Linked DNA regions of Homo sapiens: all the other regions are linked to region 1. The links come from fine-mapping of genetic effects on gene expression. A gene starts in region 1. Each other region holds a variant in brackets. All regions are shown on one strand. Distances are between the middles of the regions. Region 1 holds the start of TNFSF4 (TNF superfamily member 4). Region 2 has its middle 31 kb from the start of TNFSF4. Region 3 overlaps TNFSF4 (TNF superfamily member 4).

Region 1 (4,000 bases):
TCTGTGCAAAGATTTTTCTTTCTCGGAGCCATGATATTAACACTGAGAAGAAATGCTGCTTAAGGTACAAGTATGTGCATGGTAAATGTTTATTTTTTTCATTCTTTTGACAGTAATTTAAAAATGTTATCTACGATTTTCAGCATGAATAGTTTTTACTACTTTTTCAGCTTATTTCTAGTTTCCAATAGTATTTATGGCTTTTTTTTTTTTTGCTGTGACTCTTAGTCATTTTTTGAAAATTGACGAGTAAATAGTTACTGATTTTAATACTCTTTTATGAAGAACTATTACACAAGAATTGGGCTTTACACACTGATTTTTCCTTCAGCTTTTTTCTCCACACCCTGTATGTAACACAAGCTTTGTTCAAGGGAATAACTATGACAAATATGTTTGGATACAATTTGATTTCTAGTTTTGGCTTGGAGTCTATGATATTGTGCCTTAGTTACCTTATCTTTCAGATAAAACTTAAATTTCTCAACACCAGTATGTTCTCCTAATGCAAGGCATAATTATTGTAGTGAAGGTATTAATTCATATTTTAATTGATTAATACTGTAGTCATAAATGTACTTTACATTTCCCACAAACTTTCTCTTTTAAGTATGCCTCATTTCCATTTTTTCTGTGAAGTGGTATAACAACTCATACTGTCAATATCCAAAATATTTCTCCCTCCTTTCTTTACATATCTGCTGGGTGCCTCATGGGGAGCTGAGAGAGACATACTTGGCCACAAAGAGAGACAATTCCGTCTTAAACAGCTTTTCCCCAGCATCCTTATGTTGTCCAGTACAGTGCCAGGCTCATGTGATGTACTCAGTAAATATTTGCCCATTTGAACTTTACATTATAAGTAATTTTATCATTTATTTCATTTCATTGTTTATTTTAGTGGTAAAGGGTACCTGGTGTCTATTGATAGAATACTCTTACTTTCCAAGTTCTGAGGCCAGCCACGACCTCAAAGAAAGAAATAATCTTCAAAGCTTATTTACATCTATTCATTTGTTCATTCATGGAAAAATTATGTACGGGAAAAATGTGAAGTGGAAGGAAAGGAGACAAGGATACCCTTCTGCTTCTTTTCTGGTATGCAGAAAATTAATCATATAATTGTTTATTGAATTTGCCTCAAAGGGTTAAATGAGAGAAAGATTGCAAGTCCATCTAACACAGTGTCTGACACATAGTAAATGCTTCCAAAAGGTAGTTTATTTTTATGCAATAGACTACAACCAAGGATCTCTCCTTTACTTCTGCATGACCCAGTGTCCTATTTTCTTGTTTTGTCTTTTTCATTCAAGAATGATCTGTGTGTGCTTTCTTTCTGAATCTGTGAGAGGGGTTCAATGTTTAGTTACATAGTAAAGTGCAGATAAGAACCTTGGGCCAGCATTTCCCCTAAATCTTTTCTATGATTTAAGACACCTTGGGGAAGGGATATATGAGCTGCTACATTAACGGATGATGATTTTTATCTTTACCAAGTGACCCACAATTTGTTACTGGTGCAATAAGTTAAGAAAATAGCATACTTTTATGACTGTCATTTCACAGTCACTCAAATCAGAACTGGAATGTCACAAAAACAACTCCCTGTTAGCCCAGAGGAAAAAAAAAAAGAAAGAAAGTAAAGGGGAAATTCAGATTAGTCACAAAGAAGTTCCCCCGCCTGCCTGCAAAAGTTGCAGCGTTAAAACTGAGAGAGTCCGCTTTGCTCTTTCAATCGCCTTTTATCTCTGGCCCTGGGACCTTTGCCTATTTTCTGATTGATAGGCTTTGTTTTGTCTTTACCTCCTTCTTTCTGGGGAAAACTTCAGTTTTATCGCACGTTCCCCTTTTCCATATCTTCATCTTCCCTCTACCCAGATTGTGAAGATGGAAAGGGTCCAACCCCTGGAAGAGAATGTGGGAAATGCAGCCAGGCCAAGATTCGAGAGGAACAAGCTATTGCTGGTGGCCTCTGTAATTCAGGGACTGGGGCTGCTCCTGTGCTTCACCTACATCTGCCTGCACTTCTCTGCTCTTCAGGTAAGATGCACCACTGGGCGCTGTTTTCCCACCAGCTCATGCTGATGGCAGCTGCAACAGCTGCAAACAGTCGCTTGGAAATAATCTTATGCCAAAAGTGTTGAGTTTTTTTTCCCTCTCCCCACAGCAATCGTAAAGTGTGGTTAAACGCCCTTCTGTCTCTCCTTTCCTTCCTTCTTTTCAGCAGTGGCAGTGGTAGGGCAGAGTGGAGGTAGGGCAGAGGCACAGCTTCTAGATCTTTTTCTTTTTCTTTGCAATGCAAGATTCCTTGTATCCCTTTATAAGCTGTCACTTTGAAGCTTTGAGTCACTGATATACCTGGTCTACCCATTGTGATAGTAATGTGTTTGATCAGGCAATTAATATTAAAAGGAAATAGGAAAGAGACCAGTTCCACTTTCCCATAATATTCATATACCCTATAGACCTGCAAGGTGATTTTCTTTGTAAAGAATGCTGAAGGTATCAATATTAATAGCGGAGCAATGTGTGCGTGCATGTGTGTGTGCCTATGTGCTCACTCATTCACCCCAATGATTTAATCAGATATTGTTTCTCACAATCTATCTCTTCCAGTCATAATTTAAAGACATCATTTCACCTTTTCCCTACCTTATTAAATACATCATGTAGTAGGAGATTATCCTTCTAGTATTTTCCCCATATAGTTAAAATATTTCCATTTTTCTTTCACTTTATTCTTGTTCCACACTTCTCTCTTTTGCATTATTTTTTCTTATTCAGTAGTTCAGATATACAAACATTATTAGGTATTTAAGGATGTTCTTCACTGCAGAAGATGCCACTGGAGAAAAATAAATCTATACTCTCTTCGTGTTCCTTTGTTGAGCTAGTCTGATAATCTTGTTTTCTAGGTGGTTGCTTTGGGTTAGAAATGTTTCTCCCTGATAAAGTTCAGGTAATACAAACTGATTTCTGATGGTCTTGTCTGAGATTAAGCACCTCCAATGAAACCAGAATGAGATGAGCAGTCTTGGCAAATGCCTGGGCTTGTTTCTGCCTACAGGAAATAGGGTTTTCAGTGCATGGAGGCTGGTAAGAGTGTGTGTGGTTATGATCACTGTACCACAGACAGTGCTTGTGTCTCCAAATTCCAGAAGTGTAGCTAGTGTCATGCTCAGGTCTGCAGAACAGTGAGCACAACAACACATTGATCCTCTCCTCATCACACCACACTCTTATGTCTTCTCGCAGAACTCTTTGGGTGAAATTAAAGTAGGCGACTCGGGGAGAGGGTGTGGGGGAAGAGTAAGGTGTCCATGGCAGGATGCCCAAGACATCGACCGGATGCCCAAGACATCAACCGGAATTAGGCTCTTTTGAGAAGAAAACAAAGAGAGTAACCAAATATAGAACAGCTGAGTGCATTCACCAGTCTGGGAGCCCTGAGAGTGCTTTTTCTAACAACCACAGTGTTACATATTTCCTTACACCATGGGATGATAAAACACAGGACACATGGCTCCATTCAAGGCTAACTGATTGCACAACGGCTCTGAGCAGGAGAGAGCAAAAGGTGAACCACAGTTGTACAGCTTGCTGGTGGTTGGGGTCACATTGGACTATCAATATCCAGGAGATGTTGAGAAAAAGAGGGGATCCTTTCCAACAAGTCATCCAGCAACTCTGGGACAGAAGGAAAGCTGTGGGAAGAAAAGCAGGGTGCTGGTTTCTAGGACACTAAACCTCATGGTGAGTGATCTCTAGGGGAGAATTAGCTTCTATAGTCCTGGCACAGAGATGGAAGCAAGACATAGGTGGTATATTTGAGTTGTTTGCTTAAGAAACATGCCCTGTCTACTCTGAAAATAGATTTCTTTTTTTTGCTCAGGATATTTGAAGTTCTTCACTTGATGTTAATTATAATTTTTTTATTTCTAATTAGCTAATGTAATTTCTTATATTGTTATAGGATCTGGGACAGCACAATGGGTCCTTA
Region 2 (4,000 bases), 31 kb after region 1:
AATGGTGGCTAGTTTTTCTATTCTGAAACTGTGTTATTTATAATATGAAAAGTAGATGTGTAACCATCATTCAAGGCTCAGCTCAAACATGCTCCTCCATGAGAACTTCTTTAATGTCACTAGGAAGAATATATCTTTTACTTTTTTTGAATTCCTGTAACATATAATTCTTTAATGGCACTTATTACTTTCTATTTTGCATTATAGTGATTTGATGCAAGTTGTTTTTTTAAGTTCCATAATAACAAGTTTCTCTACTTAACAAAGTGCTATGCCCATAAAGTTGGCCAGTAAATATTTGTTTGTGAATGACTAAATGATTTACCTTGAAGAAACTTAGCAGGGACAGAGACTGAAAACTGCAATTGCTAACAAAATTCCCATATAGAATCTGCATTTTTTATTTTAAAAAAAATTTATTTTAGGTTCAGGGGTACACACACAGGTTTGTTATATAGGTAAATTGTGTGTCATGGAAGTTTGGTATACAGATTTTTTCGTCACCCATGTAAGAACCCGATAGGTAGCTTTTCCATCCTCAGCCTCCTCGCACACTCTACCCTCAAGTAGGCCCCGGTGTCTGTTGTTTCCTTCTTTGTGTCCATTTGTACTCAATGTTTAGGTCCCACTTATGAGTAAGAACATGAGGCATTTTGCTTTCTGTTCCTGCATTAGTTTGCTTAGTATAATGGCTTCCAGCTCCATCCATGTTGCTGCAGAGGACATGATCTTGTTCTTTTTTACAGCCAAATAGTATTCCATTGTGTATATATACCACATTTTCTTTCTTTAAGGTAAAATTATAATATTTTCTAGTCTAAAAATTCAGTGGTAAAATATGCAAGCATAAAATTTACCTTTTCAACCATTTTTAAAACTTTTATTTTAGGTTCAGGGCTACATGTGTGGGTTTGTTACATAGGTAATCTGTGTGTCATGGGTGTTTGGTGCACAAGTTATTTCATCACCCAAGTAATAAGCACAGTACTCGATAGGTAGTTTTTTATCCTCTCCTAACCCCCATCCTCCACCCTCAAGTAGGCCCCAGTGTCTATTGTTCCCCTCTCTGTGTCCACATGTTTTTGTTGTTTAGCTCCCACTTATAAGTGATAACATGTGGTATTTGGCTTTCTTTTCCTGGATTAGTTTGCTTAGGATAATGATCTCCAGTTCCATCCGTGTTGCTGCAAAGGACATTATCTAGTTCTTTTTATGGCTGTGTAGTAGTCCATGGTATATATGAATCACATTTTTTAATCCAGTTTACTGTTGATGGGCATTTAGGTTGATTCCATGTCTTTGCTATTGTGAATAGTGCTGTGATGAACATATGTATCTATGTGTCTTTATGGTACAATGATTTATATTTCTTTGTGTATATACCCAATAATAGTTTTGCTGGGTTGAATGATAGTTCTGTTTTCAGAACTTTGAGAACTCACCAAACTTATGATTTCCATAGTGACTGAACTAATTTACATTCCCTCCAGCAGCGTATAAGCATTCTCTTTTCTCCACAACCTTGCCAACATCTGTTATTATTTTACTTTTTAATACTAGCCATTCTGACTCGTGTGAGATGATCTCTCACTGCGGTTTTGATTTCAGAGTCCATATTTTTTCTTTCCCAAAGTGACACAACATCTGAGGGATAGAGTATCCTCATTAATAATATCTCCTCATTAAATAGTGAAATATTCCTTCTGTAAGTTCAG[G/A]TTCTTCCCTTGGTTAATTTTTTTTTGTCCATACTGGTAGCATGGAAATAATTATCGAAGGGCCCATATTTTTACTGTTTTCTGAAGGTAGTTAGTTTTTACGGATATGATTTGTTAGGCAAGCTTCATAAATTATAATTATGTACCCACAAAAAAAGCAATTACACCACTACTAATTACCTGTCCACAACTTTTTGATACACAGAACAAGATACTTTGTATAGGATATAAGGAAGCTGTAGCATTCATTTTGAGTCTACGCCCCAGCCATGTACTTACAAACACAAGACATTTGTGAGAGGAAGCATCAGCCAGCTGGTCTTAGATTAGGAAAAAAAACACAAAAAAACAAAAAACCATGACTTCCTCCTGTCTTGGTAGACTGCTCTGTTAGTTTAGTGTCAATTGAAAATGGAACTCATGTATGCGCCAACAAAAGTCTTTCTGGAAGAGGAATAAACCTAGCTAAGGAGCCTGGGGAAAAATAGGGTCCCAAGCTTAGTCTAGACATGTAGACAGTTGAGCCTAAATCCCCATTACATAAGAAGTGCTGGTCTGACCTGATGATTGTTTTTCCCATAATGTTAAATAAAACAAGAGCCTCTCAAATTACAGTAAGTCATGCTCTTCATAAGACTTCTGCCAGAAATTCTCAAGTGGCTAAGTGGCAGCACAAGTTGTGCTATAACTTTCTAAACAAAAGCTTCCTTTTCAGGGGGCCTGATAGCATCAGGGAAGGAATGAGGGAGTACAAGTGAGGAGAAAGCAAAAATAAAGTAGGCATAGAGAAAAAAATCAAGGAATGGATAATATAAGAGCCTTTCAAGAATGTAGATTTACACTAGAGATTTATTAAATTTGAGGGCCTATAACAAAATTAATTTATTTAAACAAATATTTGTTAAAAATTCTTTTATAAAGTACCTGCCACTGTGTTAGGTGTTCTGGGGAATCTGAGAGAAATAGAAAGACACTAGAATAATATGGTTGGTCTAAAGCACTCAAGATTTAGAATCAATGGAGGCTTGTGTTCAAGTTGAGATTTTACCACCACTTATCAGCTGTATCCTCTGGTTTTACTTAATTGTAGGTCTACTGATCACTGCCTTCCCTGCTCTGCCATCATACAAATTATCTCATAGGATTGTTTTGAGGATTAAACAAAACACCAACCACGGGTCACAGATTATGACATTTTCAAGGTATTTAATAATTTTTAATTACCACTTGTAGAAACCACAGTCCCTGCCCGATAGGATCTTACTTCACAGAAAACAAAGACGTAAGAGACTCTAAAAGGAGTAAAGAAAGATGAAAGTCTGTAGGTTTACAAGATAGATGATTAAGATAAGTGGTATTTTTTACATTATTACCAAGTGGGACAGACTGTATAATCTGTATGAGGTGCTAGCCCTGTAGCTTTTTGTTTCATTATTGAAAATTCTATAGAAGTGACATTGGCCATATGGCAGTGTATGAGATACCAGCTTTCATTCCCCCACAGAAAACAATGAGACAGCAATTGATATGGTTTGGCTCTGTGTCCCCACCCAAATCTCATCTTGTAGTCTGGGGTGGGATCTCGTGGGAAGTGATTAGATCATGGGGGTGGTTCTCCCATGCTGTTCTGATACTGAGTGAGTTCTCATGAGATCTGAGGTTTCATAAAGAACTTTTCCCCCTTCATTCTGCACTTCTTGCTGCTGCCATGTGAAGAAGGACACGTTTGCTTCCCCTGCCACCATTGTAAGTTTCCCAATGCCTCCCCAGCCCTGCAGAACTGTGAGCCAGTTAAACCTCTTTCCTCTATAAATTACCTAGTCTCGGGCAGTTCTTTATAGCAGCATGAGAATGGACTAATACAGTAAACTGGTACCACAGAGAGTGGGGTGCTACTGTAAAGATACATGAAAATGTGGAAGTTACTTTGGAACTGGGTAACAGGTAGAGGTTGGAACAGTTTGGAGGGCTCAGAAGACAGGAAAATGTGGAAAAGTTTGGAATTTCCTAGAGACTTGTTGAATGGCTTTGATCAAAATGCGGATAGTGATATGGAAAATAAAGTCCCGACTGAGGTGGTCTCAGATGGAGATGAGGAACTCATTGGGACCTGGAGTAAAGGTCACTCTTGCTATGCAAAGAGACTGGCAGCATTTTGGCCTTGCTCTAGAGATCTGTGGAACTTTGAACTTGAGAGAGGTGATTTAGAGTATCTGGCAGAGGAAATTTCTAAGCTGCAAAGCATTCAAGAGGAAGCAGAGCATAAAAGTTTGAAAAATTTGCAG
Region 3 (4,000 bases), 25 kb after region 1:
TTGGCCTCTGCAACCACACAGGGATATTTCTGCTATGCACCAGCCTCACTCCACCTTCCTTCCATCAAAAATATGTGTGTGTGTCTCAGTCCCTGTAAGTCATGTCCTTCACAGGGAGAATTAACCCTTCGATATACATGGCAGAGTTTTGTGGGAAAAGAATTGAATGAAAAGTCAGGAGATCAGAATTTTAAATTTGACTTAGCCACTAACTAGCCATGTAACCTTGGGAAAGTCATTTCCCATTTCTGGGTCTTGCTTTTCTTTCTGTTAAATGAGAGGAATGTTAAATATCTAACAGTTTAGAATCTTATGCTTACAGTGTTATCTGTGAATGCACATATTAAATGTCTATGTTCTTGTTGCTATGAGTCAAGGAGTGTAACCTTCTCCTTTACTATGTTGAATGTATTTTTTTCTGGACAAGCTTACATCTTCCTCAGCCATCTTTGTGAGTCCTTCAAGAGCAGTTATCAATTGTTAGTTAGATATTTTCTATTTAGAGAATGCTTAAGGGATTCCAATCCCGATCCAAATCATAATTTGTTCTTAAGTATACTGGGCAGGTCCCCTATTTTAAGTCATAATTTTGTATTTAGTGCTTTCCTGGCTCTCAGAGAGTATTAATATTGATATTAATAATATAGTTAATAGTAATATTGCTATTTACATGGAAACAAATAAAAGATCTCAGAATTCACTACTGGTGAGAGTGTTGGAGTGTTCATTTATCCTTGTCTTCTCCATGTTCTGAGTAGCTCATCCTCTGAAGAGGGGAGGACGGGGCAAGCTTTCCAGTTTCCTACTTGCCTCCAGTTTTAGCCATCAAAGACACATCTGAGGGATGGTTGAGGTGGCAAAGCCCATCTTTGCTTTTGAAAAGATGCTCACTGGAGGTCCTTAGAGTCCCTCTTCATGGTTCAAGAGAGACTGATTTAAATAGAGTTCTACCATGTACTGTTTTTCCTTTCCTCAGAACCTTATTTCTAACCCTGGATGATTTCTTATGTCCCCTCTCCTAAGTGGTAATTACATCTGCTGTCTCAATAAAAGGTCACAACTATTAATGGGTTTGTGTAGCATAGTCTGGCCACAGTGATCCCTGTGCTACTTTTGATGGTGCTGATGACGTTGTCCTCCTTAAAACACTTCTGTTCCCCAGCTTTTTTGACCTCACCCTTTTCTGGACTTCTCTTTCTGTTCTCTGCCTTTCTTAGTCTTCATCACCCCTCCTCTTTCTCTGCCACCCCTTTAATGCTGGTGTACTTCAGGACTCTACTCTCAGCCCTATTCTTTCTCTACAGCAGAAACTGCAATCTGGCAGCCAATGAGCCGCAGTCTAGCCTATGTCTGTGTTTCATCTGTTTATTAAGTTGAATTTAGTAGCTGATATTTAAATATCGGGAAATTTCTGATCTTTTTTGAAAACAAAACCAAAAACAGAAACAGGAGATCTGGTGATGCTGGGCCCAATTTTGGCATGGCAGCAACCTTCCCAAACAGAGTGGCAGCTTCCCTCTTTAAGGAGACTCCATGAACTCCATTTCCCAAGAGTTCTCCTCACCCACACAATGTGCAAATGCACTTACACAAACTCACTGCTGAAGTCCCTCAGGCATTTGAGTTGTGGTCTCTGCTCTATACCCTTGCCAATCTCATTGATTCTTGTGCCTTCAATCAATGCTCCCACATCAGCAATACCTAAGACCGTTTTTCAGCCCAGATGTCTTCTACTCCAGTGCCTCATTTGTTGTAATCACTTGTGTTATTAGTAATAAAATACCATTTAGTGAGTTCTTTCCCTGTGCCAGGCATCGTATTAGCCATTTATATAAATTGTTATTTCCATTGTCTCAACAATTCTTTGAGGTAAGTGGTATAATTCCTATTTTACGTCTGAAAACTTGAGACTCTGAGAGGTGAACTTGTCTAAACGCATGCAGCTACTAAGTGGTGGGGCTTAGATTCAAGATCAAGGGTAGTTAACACCCAAGACCACACTTTCAACCACTGCTACTCTGCTTCTGGGCAGCTCTGTATGGATGTAATGGGCTCTTCTACTTAGTATGCTCAAAATAGAACATTCTATCCTCTTTGGCAAGTCCCTCCTCCTGGTTCATGATGTTGGGTAAATGCATAAACATTTTTCCGTTTTCCCTTTTGGCCCAATTCATAAAAATACCTTATTTTTTCTATCAGTTGAACAAAAGCTTTGAATTACTTTTACTAGAAGAGAATAAGAAAAAGAAATGTTGTAAGAACATAAGAACCAAGTTTATAATACTTTTTGCAAAAGGTATGCACAGAGCTTATTAAGTTCAGAAGTGAATGTTTAATAAAGACCATACTGGGGTGGTTTTCAGTAGCATTTTAAAATATCAAATGGAATGTTAGGAGCACCAAGAAGTAGTCCCTG[C/A]GGATTTCAACCACTCTATACATGTATTTTTTATTACTTAAATATATTTTTTGGCAGCCCTTTGGAATTTTATTCCTGCAGCAGCCTTCCTTACGGAGTATGTGGATGGTTTGGAGCCTTCCTTAGCAGCATACCTTGTAACTAGCCATTGTAGCTGTTGTAGCCACTCATTCACTCCACGGGATCAAAGCACGGAAAGATGTTGTTAAAATGTAAATGTCAATATTACCTAGCAGAATTGGCACATGAACACTTTTAATGCCTTACCTTCCCTCCATCCCCTAAAGCTGGTCAGATGGCCCTGAGTCATGGAATGTAAGGCCCTCTAGTTCCGACTAAGGGCCTGGGGAACAACTGGAGTAGCATTCAGGGAGGGAACTGCCTTAGGAAGAGGAGATTGAGCGCTCAGAGTATCCTACCATTATGCCAGAGCCCTTGAGAAATCTGGTGCCATGGTCTCATGGGGCATGATTTTAAAATGGGCTTTGATCAAATTTTGGTCAATGGAACTGATTGACTTTGATCATATCCTTGTGGCTTATCTACTGAGGGAACAGAGGGATGTTAGGAGCGGAAACACAGACTTTTAGCATTTGGATTTCCCTGGAGTCCTGCCAATGCTGAGAAAATACAGCTCTTTATTGCTGTGGACATAAGACCTGATTTTTCTCCTGATTTATACGATCTTGGCCTTCTTTGGTATTTGAGGCTTGAGGTTAAAAACAAAGAACAATAACAACAAAATACAAAAGTAATTAACAGGAAGACCCAAAGTTGTAGAAATATTAGCAGAAGGTAATCTCTAAAGGTCATTTCAGTCCAGTGCTCTATTGTCATTTAGGATGAACTATTTATTAACAAGGACATACACCCTTTAAGTAATTTTTAGGATATGACAATCTGTATTCTCCCCTTATAATCAGTTTCAAGGTATAACATTCTATAATCCTATGATCATTCCTTAAGGCAACATGGCCTTTTAAATTTATGAAAATCTCACTTACTATTATAAAACCATCAACACTCAGCCAGTTTGAAATAAATTTTTTCTGCTTCTACTATATGCTATGCCAGGCATTGTGCTAGGTACTTAGTAATCATCTGTTTCCTTGAGAGAAGTAAAAATTAGCTGAGCTTGATCTCTTTTGCTCTCCCAAATACTTGTTGCTATCATGTCTATTGTTCATCGTATCCCTAACACACATGCATTACCTAGATGCACTTCAAAATACTGTTGCATCAGTAAGTAGCATTGATAAAATATACCAAATTATTTTAATTATTTAAATTAATACTATTTCTATCCCTTTAATCATGTTCATACTATTTTAAACTCTTGAACACTGACGCAAACACACTTCTTCTAGGTAAGTAATAAACAATTCTCATTGCATGCATGGTTAAATCTCATTTTATTAGTGGTCAAATAAATAGTAGTTTTTGAAAAGGCAGACATTTGAAAGTCTAAAATAATTTTATCTATGAATTTTCATTTCTAGGGTGTCAATTTGTAACATAAGGAGACCTGAGACAGAGCAGTAGATTTTATAATACATTACTTATATAATTAATGATACTTTATCC

What was found. PIP is the estimated chance that this variant, and not a neighbour inherited with it, causes the effect.
Region 2: its variant is the best candidate, but not a certain one, in a credible set for the expression of TNFSF4 in whole blood (TOPMed, PIP 0.63).
Region 3: its variant is the best candidate, but not a certain one, in a credible set for the expression of TNFSF4 in whole blood (INTERVAL, PIP 0.75).

What each region holds. Positions count from the first base shown.
Region 1 is chr1:173,205,064-173,209,063 of GRCh38, reverse strand. It overlaps TNFSF4 (TNF superfamily member 4), which reads left to right and starts at 1,733. Exons shown (of 3, transcript NM_003326.5): 1 at 1,733-2,040. The coding sequence starts at 1,888. RefSeq lists an enhancer at 1,742-1,801.
Region 2 is chr1:173,174,006-173,178,005 of GRCh38, reverse strand. It overlaps a transcript of TNFSF4 not described here. Among named protein-coding and RNA genes, the nearest start is that of TNFSF4, 31 kb to the left of the region's middle. The variant G/A (reference allele first, on the strand shown) is at 1,716.
Region 3 is chr1:173,180,434-173,184,433 of GRCh38, reverse strand. TNFSF4 (TNF superfamily member 4) reads left to right here. Exons shown (of 3, transcript NM_003326.5): 3 at 1-703. Among named protein-coding and RNA genes, the nearest start is that of TNFSF4, 25 kb to the left of the region's middle. The variant C/A (reference allele first, on the strand shown) is at 2,417.